Homo sapiens: one gene and its partner. The protein of the gene in region 1 interacts with the protein of each later gene in a pairwise test. Each region holds a gene or a part of one and is shown on either strand. Other genes may lie near its edges.

Evidence for each region.
Region 2: the proteins of EXOC5 (region 1) and TXLNB interact in binary tests that used the Homo sapiens proteins (3 or more experiments, as listed by UniProt).

Annotation. Positions count from the first base shown.
Region 1 is NC_000014.9:57,199,126-57,204,820, forward strand, and holds the end of EXOC5 (exocyst complex component 5), read right to left. Parts: 3' UTR 1,382-5,695; downstream 1-1,381. UniProt on the Homo sapiens protein: Component of the exocyst complex involved in the docking of exocytic vesicles with fusion sites on the plasma membrane.
Region 2 is NC_000006.12:139,252,209-139,262,004, forward strand, and holds part of TXLNB (beta-taxilin), read right to left. Parts: intron 8,230-9,796; coding exon 8,110-8,229; intron 3,431-8,109; coding exon 3,356-3,430; intron 1-3,355. UniProt on the Homo sapiens protein: Promotes motor nerve regeneration. May be involved in intracellular vesicle traffic.

The DNA.
Region 1 (5,695 bases):
AACAATTATATATAAAAATCAAATTATATACCATTAAAATTTAAAAATCATTCTCCTATTTTCAAAGCCATAGATGGAGTTTTTTTTCTCCTGCCACAACTTCTAGCAGATTATGAAGTTTAAATTTTTTGCATGACCTGAACCAAGTTCTGGCAAAAGAGATGTTCTTTCAGTAGTCAGTGGCATTCCTCCTAGACCTACTTTTCCTAAGGTATATATTTTAAGTCCATAGTGTTGGTATTCACCAAGATATGTAAACTAAGAATCTCGGAATCATCTTTGATTCCTTTTCTTGCTTACCCCCCACATCTAATAAAGCAACAATTAATAAGTCCTATTGGTTTAATCTTCCAAATATTCCCTGAATCCATCACCTCCTCTTCATTCCTGTGCTACTCCCCCAGTTCAGGCTTTCACCAGATTAATGCAGTAGCCTGGTTTCTGCCCTCTCTTCTCCTTTAGTCCACTGCATACATTCTGACCAGTTATCTTTTTCTAAAACACAGAATTGTTCATGTCATTCACTTACTTAATTCTCAATAGTTTTCTGGTTTTATGATAAAGCCTAAATTAATTGGGATACCATTTTAAAGACTTTGTTTGTTTTTGAGACTAAGTTTTGCTCTGTCACCCAGGCTGGAGTGCAATGGCACAATCTCGGCTCACTGCAACCTCCGCCTCCTGGGTTCAAGCGATTCTCCCACCTCAGCCTTCCGAGTAGCTGGGATTACAGGCACCCGCCATTTGTATTTTTGTAGAGACGGGGTTTCACCATGTTGGCCAGGCTGGTCTCGAACTCCTGACCTCAGGTGATCCACCCGCCTTGGCCTCTCAAAGTGCTCGGATTATAGGCATGAGCGACCACGCCCGGCCTAAAGGCTCTAAATAAGCTAACCCCAATCCAAATATTCGTTTTAACTTGCCCTTTTTGATGGACCCCACACATTGAGCTCTACTCACACAGCAGTTTTTCCATTCAGTGATATACCAGTGACTCATGCCTCCACACCCTGCAAGTATAAGTTACTTCTGCCTAGAATTCCCCTTCTCCTCCACCACTGATGAAATGCTACTTGCCTTTTTAAAGCTCAGCTGAAATGTGACCTCTTTTATGAAATCTTCTTAGAGGTAACAGAGCAAAGTGGTTAAAACATAGGCTATAGAAGCCTAAGGATGTAAGTTTGAATTCTATTACTTTTTAGATATATAATTTTGGTGAAGTTATTTAACTTCTTTGTGCCTCCATTTGACTCCTATTTCACATTAAGTTTATTGTAACATCTATTATAATAGATCCAGCCCAGAGACTCCTTTCTCACATGAAGTCTATCCTTCTTAGCATATATATTTTTAATGGCCTACAAAAACAACAATTGTATGATCATTTTTCCTTTGAACTTTATTAGTAAAAATATCCTATTGGTATTCAGTGCTTAATGGTCAGGTTTCCATTCATACAGTTTCTCTGATGCACTCTTATTAAATAGCAATTACAGTAGCAAGGAGATTGTATAATAGAAAAACATACGGTATGCATTTCAAATTTAATTCTTTCAAAATGTAAGTTCTGTGTCTTGGGCATAACACTTTACCCCCTCCTCAATTCAGCTTTACTAATTTGCTCACTACATTAAAAAAAAAAAAAAAAAACTTCCACCAAAAATATAGTTGTTTCTGCGTGATAAAATTGTAATTTTTAAATTTAATATTTTAAAATTTTTACAGGATTTCTGCAATGACCATTCTTATTCCCTCAATTTGGTCCTAAAGCCAAAACTTCAAGAGCTATGTGAGATGAGGATGGTCTCCTCCAGAGAGAGGGGAAGCCCAGTATGGAGTATGGAAGCTCAAGTGAGGTGAGGAAGATGTTGCAGAGGGGCGCATGGGTGTGGGTGTATATTTAAAATATGCGTGAGTGTGTGTGTGTGTATGCACACATAAAGCCCCCTAGCATTATCTATTGAGAAAGAGTAGGGTGAGACATCTCAATAATAATAAGCACATCTCATGCACAAATCTTGATTTCTAACTGCCAATTTCACTAAAAGGTGGAGGAATGGCTGATTCCAGAGCTGGGGCAAGGCAAGTACAAGATGACCTTGGAAAATCCTGTTGTGCCCAGAATAAATTGCTGTAAAAATGATGGGAACATGCCAAAACGACACAGGAGACAACCTGAAGAGGCTACTTCTGACCAAATTTGGGATAATTTGAGATTTGGTAAAATGACAGATTATAATTAGTTGAACAGAAAACTATGAATACATAGTGATATCAAGAGAATTCTGATTAGTATATATATATACACACACACACGTGTGTATATATACACACGCGTGTATATGTACACACACGTGTATAAACACACGTGTATATACACACACATATGTATATATATACACACACACCACACATATACATATATTTTTATATATATTAATATTATATATATATATATATATATATATATAAAGGATGGCTGGTTAAGGTGGCTCACACCTGTAATCCCAGGACTTTGGGAGGTTGAGGTGGGCAGATCACTTAAGGCTAGGAGTTTGACACCAGCCTGACCAACACGGCAAAACCCCATTTCTACTACAAATAGAAAAATTGGCCAGGCATGGTGGCATGTGCCTGTAGTCCTAGCTACTTGGGAGGCTGAGGTGGGAGAATCGCTTGAACCCAGGAGGTAGAGGTTGCAGTGAGCTGAGATCACGCCACCGCACTCCAGCTTGGGCAACAGAGCGAGACTCTGTCTGCAAATAAATAAATAAGGGGGACCTATATATGTCTGTATCTATTAATATATATCTACCTCCAAAATATTTACAAAGGGAAAAGTAATAGTTTTAAAGTGGAGAAGCCTGGTAAATAGTACCTTAAGAAAGTGATAAAAATGAACATCATCAGAAATGGGGCAAATTGAAATTGTGTACTATGTGATAGGATGCAACAATAACACAGAGTTGCATCCGTGGTATGTCTGCCAAAAAGCACAAACAGAATCTAATTACGTGGAAACAGAAATCCAAATGTAGGGGTGTTTTACAAAGTAACTACCCTATAATCTATAAAAATGTCCAGAGTCAAAAAAGTCAAGGAAAGACTGTGGAACTGTGTCAGAATGAATGAGACTAGAGCCACTACAACCTAAAGCAATACATGATTTTGAACTGAGATCCTTAAAAGGAATTAGGACAGCTAGTAAAATGATTGGTGTCTGAGGATTAGATAGTAGTAATATGTCAATGTTAACTTCCCAATTTTCATGTATTGTAGTTATACTGAAGCATTCTTTCTTCTTGGAAATACAAAAGTATTGGAGGGTGGTGCAGCATCATGACAGCGACTTATTCTCAAAAGGGAAAAATTTTATTTGTACAGTATTTACAACCCTTCTGTTAAGTCTGATTGTTTCAAAAATTTTTCTTTAAAAAGCAGAATGTAGAACACTAATCAGTAGATTCTTATTAGAGTTGATAAAGGAATTCAATGTGATATATAACTAAGAAAACATAATGTTAATCATGGTAAACTTTGTTCAATTCCTGTGTCCACTGTGCACATGTTCTTCAAAACTGTTTTGGTTTTGTTATTAATTTCCTTTGAAATTTTTCTCATGCAAGACTTTCAGAATCTTGTTTACACACATGCACACACACACATAATTGGGATAGCAAAATGTTCATAGATGCTGTAAAGTTGTGTGAATTCTATTTTTAAAATAAAAAAATGTACATATTACTATAAAAATAACTTCTCCCCCTTGTGGCAAAAATTGAAAATACATTCTACTGGAGAACTTAAGAGAGGCACTTAGGTATTATTCCTTATAAAATATTTTCACATAACTTCATGTGAATCCCCCATGTTATCCTCTAAATGGTACACAGTATTCACAAACAATATGCTTAGAGGTAGCTTCACAGTTTTCTTTACATCCAGCATTGTCCAGACTCTATTTGGATATTTTCTATAGCAAAAACCTAAAGGTTATTTATTTTTCTAAAAACAGGGACTCACTATGTTGCCCAGAGTGGTCTTGAACTCCTAGCTTCAAGTGTTCTTCCCACCTCAGCCTCCCAAGTAGCTGGGAAGCTGCAGACTTGATAAAAGTGCTACAATAAAAGGCCAGAGTTGAAAGGAACCAGTTACAGTATAAAGATTAAAATGATAGGCAGGCAAAGAGGGATGGCCTCACTTAGAGGCACCTGCCAATTTAAGATTACAGGGGCATCAGGAAGGCTTCTCACCTCTCAAAGTTTAATCTCAAAACTCTGGAAGTCCACCAATGGAGACTAATTCCTTTGTTAGTTCTATCCAAACTTCACTTAGTTTATTAACATAAAGATAACTGGAAGGGATACGACACTTTCTTCATTTAAGATTCCCAGTGGTGAAAACAAAGAAAGTCACTCATTGGAACTATAAATGAAACTTAGCTTTCTTATTCCAGGTTCCTACTTCCTTCCTTAACCCTCCATATTTCCTCCTATTAAGTCACTAGGCACTTATAATTCTACATTTTACTGACCTTTCACTGATTATAAAGTAATTTAAGTGATTTTTGAAAGTAAACTTAATTCCAGTTTCAGACTTTTAAATTAAAAGTGGCTCAGTTGGATACTGTCTCTTAAACACAGTAATATAAATATTAGTATCTTGGCTAAAATGAATTATTGACAATTTTAATACATGTTGCACAGTACATATTAATATAGAAAAATACATGTTATCAGCAGCATGATGTTGACCATGTTCTAATCCATTCCACCTGCTCAAATATTAGTGCAAATAATTATATATTTGTAATGCATCACTGCTGTCTAGCAAAATCTATGCCTTCTGAATAAATGACTTTCCTCTGAGGTTGACTGCTATGTGAAGTATGATGTGATATATTCCTATTTAAACTGGCTTTGTATGGTGAGGCAGACTGCAACCTTCTAAACCACTTAGAAAATGGGCGAGTGTGTTTAATTACTCATCTTTCCCCCCAAAAGTCGATAATCACAAAACAAAGGTTAATGGTACCTATCAAATAATAATGATAAAATACCTCGGGTCTAGTTCAAAAATAGGAATTTTGTTAAGCCCAGGGGCAGCCTAGCTGCTTTAATTTGGCAATTAAAATTTCTGTTCTCTAAATGTCAGGTTTCTGTCCCCTATACATTTGAACAGTTGTTTCCTCCCTAAATTTGTAAAGAGAAATGATTGATCACTGGTAGAAATAAAAGGTAAGAGTTATGACAGCTTTTAAAACCCTTAACATGCAATTCTGATTACATGAAAATGACTATCTACTGTTAATATACTAAATATTTTGCCTTACATTTTCACTCCAGCATTAGTCATTTAAAAACTACCAATGTACTAAATAGTTAACACAATTGGCAAGCCTATGACATTTAAAATAGTTTTTGAACATAAAAACACTGATTTCTTCATATCTTCCAAGGTAGAGTTGTCATTTACTTCTATGTCACAAAATATAGTACAAAATATTTGGTCTCTTTCTATTGTGAAAATTATCAAGCTGGAAAAGTATATAAAATAATACCAATAAAGATTTGTGATAGACATATTTCTATTAGGTACAAACTTAACATTAAAATTTCATGACCACTTATAATATTTAAAAAATCAAATTTAAAAAGTATGACCATACATTGAACATATTAAGAAAAACACAACA
Region 2 (9,796 bases), on another chromosome or scaffold:
TGTCCTTGATAATTCTGTTGCCCAGACCTTAGAAATGGGGCCTTGGCCTTGGCCTCCTGCTACTCCCACCCCTTTAAAGGCAGCGTAAAACCAAAGGAAGTGTTGGAGTGTTATGCAAAAGAATCTGTGATAGAGTTTGTTTTCAAAGTTTAGAAGTTTTAGAAATATAATGTTGATACTTTTTAATGAGGAGCTTGTTTAAACATGATTACGCATAGGGATTCAGGACCTCTATTTTATTCTTGAGGCTTAAGTAATTATTGGAATTTCAAAGGTAACTTGGAGACAAAAAAGAAAGACAAAGGAGGGTTCTTGCAATTAGTGAGGCTGCCTGCACTGTGGAACACTGCAGGCAATGGACAAGGCGGGGTCAACTTAGCTTAGGGCCACACTTCTTCAGCTCTGGAAGTTCTCTATGCTCATGAACTACAGCTGAATAGCATCTTGAGATCATCTTTTCCAGCGGTTCTTCAACTTTTTTGCAACTTAAGACTCCTGTTGGGCCGGGCGCAGTGGCTCACGCCTGGAATCCCAGCACTTTGGGAGGCCGAGGTGGGCTGATCACGAGGCCAGGAGATCAAGACCATCCTGGCTAACACGGTGAAACCCTGTCTCTACTAAAAATACAAAAAATTAGCCGGGTGTGGTGGCAGGTGCCTGTAGTCCCGGCTACTCGGGAGGCTGAGGCAGGAGAATGGCGTGAACCCCGGGAGGTGGAGCTTGCAGTGAGCTGACATCATGCCACTGCACTCCAGCCTGGGCAACAGAGTGAGACACCGTCTCAAAAACAAACAAAAAACTCCTGTTGTCTCATATTTCCTTCTCATATTTCCATATTTCCTTATATGAAATCCTTACCTATGAAATAATACTACTAGTTCATACACTAATTAATAGTCAAGCAGAGATTTTTCTCTCTCTTATTGATGATTATATCGCCAAACCTAGAACCATGCCTAGCACTTAGTAGATGCTCAGTAAATATTGGTTGAATTAATTATGCTTATTTTGGGCCAGACACTGAGCAAAATGCTTTGGATGCATGATTTGAAAACCAACTACATATATTACATATGCATTAACTGATTTTCCTTTTAAAAACTTAAACATAGGCATAATTTCCATCCACAGTTGCTGAGCAAGAGGTGAAGTAATACCAGAAACAACTACATTTTAGATAGTAGCTGCTACCTTATGTGCTGATGTTTTGGAAACGCTGAAAAGTCATAGGCCTCTCAGGGGTTGCACGACTCCAGGCTGGGGTCATTGATTCATTATAGCATTTTCATTTTGCAGACAAGGAAATTTAGTTCCATAGAGGTTTAGGTGGGTTACACAGGGTCACACAGCTTCTCGGTAAAAGAGCCAGGACTCTGACCTGGTGCCTTGACTCAGGGATGAATGAGGAACAATAGCAAATCTAGAACCCCTGGTTGATGGTTTTTTAAGTTTGAGGGGGTATAAGGGGGAAATTAGATCAAAACTTTAATATTTGTATTGTACAGGTCATTAAAGGCCTCGATTCTGATGCCAGCTGAGTGAATCACTCTGTAGCCCACAGTTTAACAATGTAATCTACTCTGCTCAAGTTGATTGTCTTCATTTTGCATGGAGGAGTAGAGATTGCATGTAGCAGATGATGTGAACAGTGCACAGCTTCAAGTATTATTTATTGTTCCCCTCAAGGCTCTGTGTGGTGAATGAGGCACAGATAGAATTAGAGGCCTTGGCTTGATTCCTTGAGGTCACACCCCCTTTCCTTCTGCTAGACAGCCAGCAGTCAGCCACCCACCCTACACCATGATGTGATGAGTTCCGTGACTGCCTAAAGGATGATCTTGAGTTTGTAACTCTGGGCCCTTTGCTTCAGACACATTATGGTTCTAACTTCTATGTATCTAGTGTATTAAGACAATTCTTCTTTATTATCAGAGAGTAGTTCATACTGGAGAAAATAATTTATTATTGCTTTGCTATATATGCATTGCAGAAATATACTTTAAGAAGGCTAGATATGAAAATGTTCCCTGTATTTTTGTCTGTGCAGTAGTATAATCTGTGATTTTAAATTTCTTATTTGCTTTTTTCTTTTACAATGAACACGATTTGTGTGTGTGTGTGTGTGTGTGTGTTTACAGTGAACAAGTACTCAGCTGTCAGCATATAAACATTTACAAATCTTAAATTAATGCTGCCCAGCTTGGAAGGTTTCTGATTTCCTTGCCTTCGGTGAATTTCTCCCTGTGACCTCACAGTCCCTTTAGCACTTGGGTGTTTCCCAGGGCAGTGGAAGTCTGTGGCCTGTGGCAGGATGGTACTCCTGGAACCCACAGGGACCATTATTTAGGACAGGCAGAGCCCCAGGTAGGGGTAAGATGGGTAGGTCTGGCTTTCTTCCAGAGTCAGCTGTGGCATAAATGTCCAGAATGGTCCCCCCTTTTTTTGAGTCTGAAATAGGAACCCCCAGAGTCTAACAGAAGCACATAAAAGTTGTCACGCAGCCAAACCAAAATGGTTCCTGACTTGCCTGACACTTGTATCCATTCACCACTGACAAGGCCAACCTCTGATGGCATAGAAACTTGAGTGGTGACTATTTTTCTCATTTTCTTTTCTTTTCTTTCTAAACAGATGGAGTCTCACTCTGTCGCCCAGGCTGGAGTGCAGTGATGTGATCTCGGCTCACTGCAGCCTCCGCCTCCTGAGTTCCAGTGACTCTCCTGCCTCAGCCTCCTGGGTAGCTGGGATTACAGGCACATGCTACCACGCCTGGCTAATGTTTATATATTTTTTAATAGAGACGGGGTTTCACCATGTTGGTCAGGCTGGTCTCGAACTCCTGACCTCAGGCGATCCGCCCGCCTGGGCCTCCCAAAGTGCTGACGTTACAGGTGTGAGCCACTGCGCCCGGCCTCATTTTCTTTTTATGATAAATAATATCAAGACATGAGGACATCTTAAGAATCGCCAGTCATAGATGGTGCATCTGAGCAGTTTACGTTTTCTTCTTACCTTAACAGGGCAATGAGAGGGGAAGTACGGTGGAAATAAGAAGTGCTAGATGGGAACCTGGACACTGGCTGACTCTCTTGACCACTGTACTGTCATCCATTGTCTGTCAACAAACCTTTGACTGGATGTTGCCGGCGCAGAACATTTCTTTTTCATAGATATAATATTGTGCTTTTATTTTTACTTGAAAATATGAATAAATGTGAAGTTGTTCTTCATTTCCAATTCCCATCCCCCCATCCCCTGCCACATAGGAGGACTTCTGCTGCCCACCTTTGGCCCCAGCCTTTTTATCTGGGGACAGTGAGGACAGCACCCCCATGCCTCGTCCACCTGGCCTCACCTGAGCCTGCAGGACTGTCTCTTGCTCCTTCAGCACTTTCGCCTGAAGTTTCCACTCTGCTGCCTGGTTCAGCAACTATGAGAAGAGAGAGTGTGTGGAAAGATGGTCAGATTTGCCTTTTAGATTACTATTTGGCTGTAATTTGTCTACAAAACTTAGCAACCTGCTCATTAACCTCCTTAAGTAATTTTTTGGAACTTTGAAAAGAATCTAAGAAAGCTTAAAAAACCAGGCCCAGCATGGTGGCTCATGCCTATAATCCCAGCACTTTGGGTGGCTGAGCTGGGAGGATTGCTGGAAGCCAGGAGTTTGAGAACAGCCTGGGCTATATAGGGAGACCTTGTCACTGAAAAAAAAAAAAAACCAAAATTAGTCAGGGGTGGTGGTGCATGCCCGCAGTCCCAGCAACTCGAGAGGCTGAGGCAGGAGGATCACTTGAGCCCAGGAATCCCAGGTTGCAATGAGCTATGATGGCACTGCTGCACTCTAGCCTGGGCAATAGAGTGAGACTCCATTTCTAAAAAAATAAAGAAAAAGAAAGCTAAGAAAATAATTGGTCTAAAAAAGTTGGATTCTCAACTATAAACTAGTGGTTTTAATAAAAAAAATAGTCTCTAGCTCAAGTATGAATCACAAAAAATTCAACTTCCCACCACATTCTGGAACCTTCTCTAGTAATCTTGGCCAACAATCATTCAGCCTCTGCTGGAACCTCTCCAGAACATCCCCACTTGGTGCACTTTTGTTAGCAACTGTTTCTTTTCTTTTTTCTTTTTTTTCTTTGAGACGGAGTTTCTCTTTTGTCGCCCAGGCTGGAATGCAGTGGTGTGACCTCAGCTCCCTGCAACCTCCGCCTCCTGGGTTCAAGCAATTTTCCTGCCTCAGCCTTCTCAGTAACTGGAATTACAGACACCTGCCACCATGCCCAGCTAATTTTTGTATTTTTACTAGAGACGGGGTTTTGCCATGTTGGCCAGGCTGGCCTCCAACTCCTGACCTCGTGATCTGCCCGCCTCGGCCTCCCAAAGTGCTGGGATCATAGGCGTGAGCCGCCGTGCCCGGCCAACAACTGTTTCTTTAGAGTACATCCAGAATCATTCTCCTAGACCACTGTTCTCCACCATAGCACACTTGATACAATAAGAACTATGTATGTCCTTGGTCTTTGTCCCTGATTCCTGACACAGAGCTTCTAACATGCATCAGAATCTCCTACGGAACATATTAAAAATGCAGATGCCTCTCAGATAATATGATTTAGGAAGTACAGAGTGTGACTGAATTCTATGCTTCAAGAAAATACCCAAAATGGTCTGGATATCGGTGGCCTGTGGATTACATTTTGAGAAGTATGGGTTAGAAGTTTGACCTATTGGTCTAAATCCTGGCCCCTGAGAGCTGATGGGTTAAATTGGAAAGGGGATTTGGGCATACAATGACACATTCATATATAAGCTTGTAATTTTAACTTAAGATGAATGCCTATTTATCAATTTTGAGGTAGGGCTGTGGTCTTTGTTTTGGGTATGGATCTTCTGATTAGAGTTCAGAGGGTTTTTTGTTTGGTTTTTATTATTATTTTTAAAAATCACATCCACAGTGTGCCATGTAAGATTTCTAGGTTGTTAGGCTTGTGTGTGTGTGTGTTTAGCGATAGTGCTAGAACCTAAAAATACTTATGAAGCAGCTTGTCTGGATAATTCTCTAGAGTTTTCCACTTCCCCCCAGTCTTTTATAGCTACTCATATCTAGTTTGACAGTTGTTTTTTGCCATTTGCTTGCATTTGGTCTTTCAAAGCACTAAGCATAATTTGCACAAACAGTTTTTTGTTTTCATACTTATATTTCATCAGTTTATGTAACATCCTGTTGATTTACACAAAAGCAAGTGCAATTGGAAAGAAAAGGTTTGTGCAAAGAGCTGATTCTTGGTAAGCTCCACCTTACTAAACTGGGGCAAATTTTGTAGCCCTTCCAGAGAGTGGCTGGGTAGACCTGCAAGTCAGCATGCTGTGGGCATCGGTCAGTGCGTTTTACAGAGAAAACAGTGAACGCAGAGATCAATCTGGCTAGTCAGTCTGGAGGCTATCAATTAAGAAGTTTCTCTTGTATTTGAAGATAAGCTGATTAAAATTTCCCACTTTTAGTTTATCCCTATTGTAAAAAAAAGTCCACGAGGTCTATGTATTATATAATCAGAACCAAAAAAACTAACAATAAAATCATTACTTTTAAAAACTGGAAAGCTTCTTTTTCCTCATCTAAGTTTGTCTTTTTCCCATGACCCAGCCTCTCCATTTGTAAAATGGGTTGCATTTGTTCCTCTATGCCTCCCAGGGTGCAATGAAGATTGATTCTCATAGAAGTGCAACCAAATGGTCCTATGAGAGGACTGGGGCAGCTGTGGAGTAGAAGCCCTACAGTGTCCCCTCTGGCCATCTGAGGGGAGTGGTGGCACTGTGCCTGCTTCTTGTGAGCTGGCTATGCAGCTTTGTTGTGATTGGTGACCCCCAACCTCGAGGGAGGCTGGTGGCTGCCTATTCTGCCTGGGTGACTTGATATCTCATCGCTTCCAAAAGGAGGTGCCCCAGCTGCAAGCCAGGTAGGTGGCTAGCTTCGAAGAAGTGAGATGAGCTCCCTCTCTTTGACTCAAATCTGTTTTGCTGAACCAAAACAGGTGCTAGTTTCTTGCTAAGGCTGGGTCGTCTCAAATCTGCTCTCCAATGTCTCTCATGTGCATCTTTGTCTTGTTCTTTCTCTTTCATGTCTCGTGTTATACAGCAAAGTACCAATATACTATGGGAAGCATATTTTACCCAAGAAGGTAATTACACCAATGGTGGAATTTCTATTCTCTTGGATTGTGAATAATAATTGAATGTTTTATTTCTTGCTTTCAGAGCTAGGTTGTAGATGGATTTCATAAATTAATCTTTTTCTTAAGAGAACATGGACTTCTGATTTGAAATTATCCAATGTCCACCAGATTATGTTGCTCAAAATTTGTCTTTTTGTTGCCATGTTTGAAAATTTATTTTAAAATTACTATTCTAATCAACTGAATTGATTCTGGTCTGATTTTAGGTAAATGAAAATCTCAAGATCAAAATGTGACATGGCCAAATTTGAATAAGTGGTCCATGGACCATGTTTTACCTCTCTCTCACCCCAGCAACAGATACATGCGTCAACTCATACCTCTGAAACACACGTCTGAGTGTGATGCACCGTCACAGAGAGTGTGGGCTTTGGGAACAGACGCACATAAGATCAAAACACATCTTGCTCAGTCAGCAGTGTGCAACCTTAACAAGTTGCGTATCTTCTTGGAGCCTCAATTCTCTCATCTGTAGAATGACCCTACAGCTTTTTGGGGAGTGCTTGGGGTTAATGAGATATCAATAAACACCACCACTCAGTTTCCTCAGCCCAAAACTTAGGAGTCATCCTTGACTTTCTCCTTTTCTCTTTGTCACCAGCTTCAGGTCTGTAGCACTGTCTGTTGATTTCACATTGAAAACAACTTTCATCCATCTCCACCCCTCTTCTCTGCTGCCATATCCCTAAACCAAGTCATCATCATATTTCATCTGATTGCTATAGTAGCCTCCTGTCTTCTTGCTCTCTTGTCCCTCTGCAGTCTATTTTCCATCCAGGAGCCAAATTAATCTTAGAAAATGCAGAGCAGATCATGCCATCACTTCCTTTGCAGAAGCACCCAGTACTTTCCCATTGTATTTAGAATGAAATCCAAATAACTTTTTAAGCCCTACAAAGCTACACAGTTTGGCACCTGCTTACCTCTCCAACTTCATTTTGAACCTCTCCCCCATGCTCTTGCTTCCCTGACCTTTTCCTGTTTCTGGAGCACACCAAATTGGTTCCAGCATTAGGGCGTTTGTTGCTGCTGCAGATGCTGGAGACGATGCTCCAAGTAGCAGCTCCTCATCTGGCAGGGCTTAGCTCAAGCATTCGCCCCTCCAGGAGGCCTTCCTGGTCACTCAATCTAAAGTACGTCCCCTTCTTTGGCCCCTTCTCAGTTTCTCCTTACTTCCTTAGTAGTGGTGATTATTGTCTGAAATGACCCTTCCCTGTTTGCTTGTCTATTGCTTGTCTCTTTCCAGTTAGACTCTAATCTCCATAGTGGGAGATGCCCCTTCTCTGTCTTGTTCACGGCTATGTCCCCGCACCTAACACGGTGCTTAGTAGATAACAGGCACTTGAAAAATATGTGTGGAATAGATGAATGACTATTTTATGTAGAAAGTAGTGTAGACATAGTGCCTCAGACTGGGCTGGCTAATTTAGTTCTCCATAGAAGCTGGGGCTCTTTCTCCATCAGTCTAGTGCTCTTTGACCATTATAAAAACAACTTGCGTCCAGGCGCGATGGTTCACACCTGTAATCCCAGCACTTTGGGAGGCCGAGGAAGGCGGATCACCTGAGGTCAGGAGTTCAAGACCAGCCTGGCCAACATGGTGAAACCCTGTCTCTACTAAAAATACAAAACAAGTAGCCTGTTGTGGTAGTGGGCACCTGTAATCCCAGCTACTTGGGGAGGCAGGAGAATCGCTGGAATCCTGGAGGCTGAGGTTGCAGTGAGCTGAGATCACGCCACTGCATTTCAGCCTGAATGACAGAACGAGACTCTGTCTCAAATAAATAAATAAATAAATAAATACAAAACAACTTGCTCAGAGTGTCTCTGACACTGAGGTAGACCAGATATGCACAACGACTAAAATGATAAATACATATTCCTTTTCTCGTTTGTGTCGCTCCTCCGCTTCCTTCATCATTTCTTGGGCCTGCTCAAGCTTTGCATCCACCAGCTTCTGCTGCAGTTCTCTGTGTTTAAATATTTTGTCCAGATGCTAAGAAAAATAAAGTGTACATAGAAAGCTTGGTTTATTATTGGTGCTTAAAAATGCAAAGTAAAATAATTCACATTAATACACATTCCCCAGGTTTTAAGATTTAAAAGAAGAGAGGGATAAATGCATTGGCATCACTTACAGCTTTATAATAAAGCTGTAAATTGGTGAACCCCTCCCCCTGACTTTGCACCACACACACAAAGCTAGCTATAAAAGGTAGAGGCACCAGAGTTCAGCAGTGTCAATGCCAAAAGATCCATACAATATTTTTCTACGTTTGGTAACTATTAGATATGATGCTATTTATTATGCTAGACAGCACAGACAATGATGTATCAGTATACAATATACAGGGGCTACAGTTGTATCATTTGGTATTTTGGCTCTTTCTGTGAATATAAAACCACTTTTAATTGCAACACTTGTGCAATTTATCATGATGAATTCTCTGCATTCTTGCCTCTGGCGTTGTGAGAAAGCCTTGGGGTGCCAGCATGTGGTCCGAGGTCTGGGAGTGAGGCCTGAGCCCCCCTGAATTCTACTCTGTTGCTCTGGTGGAGATGACAAGGCCAAGGGTCATAGAGAAATTGAGTCGCAAATGTGCAGAGCTCGCCACACCTTTTGACCTCTGGACTAGTTTGGTCAAGAGAAACTTCCAACTCTACCTCAGGATGGATAAATTCCTGGTCACTGGGAGGTCCAATCAGAAACAGGACATGGAATTCTCCCCTTGGGCTTTACTTAGAACCAGTCCCAGGAATATACAACTAGCATAGCAGCCCATTCCCATCTGAGATCTCTCTGAAGAATATGGACATTTTCCTTTCACTCCTTCCTATCTTCTTTAGTCTGAACCTCCATTCTGGAGCGGGATTGATCCTTATGACAAGATAAAATGGTAGCATGGCATTTTGGCTTACTATTAGGAGTTTCTTGATTTACCTAACCACCGCGACCATATGCTGTTGGCTCAGTTTTGTGCTTGATAAAATCTTAGCATGTTACCAACAGAGCCGCTTTGACTATGTTATGTTACATTTTAAAGCAGAGATTTAAAATTTGGGTGGGATAGGGAAAGGAATATGATGTGTCAAAATCCTGAGAGGGTATCTGGAATCTTAAAAATATATTAAATATTAAAATATAATTTGGGTATAACAAAAGACCTTGATCATCCCCCTAATATAACCTATTCAAAGTAAAAGGCTTTTGCCTCTTGTGACTGTGGGTAAGTGGTTTAATCTCTTAGCTTCTGCTTCTCATCTATAAGATATGGATAATATATTATTATCTAATGCATAAGATTGTTGAGACAATTAAATGCCATATGGTATGTAAAGTACAGCACTTAGCACATTGCCTGATACAAACTAACCACTGAATAAATGATATCATTATTATTACAATGATTACATTATTAATACTATTATTGGCCTGGTAGGGTACATAGAATACAGACTCTTTTTTTTTTTTTTTTTTTTGAGACGGAGTCTCACACTGTCGCCTGGGCTGGAGTGCAGTGGCGTGATCTCAGCTCACTGCAACCTCCACCTCCTGGGTTCAA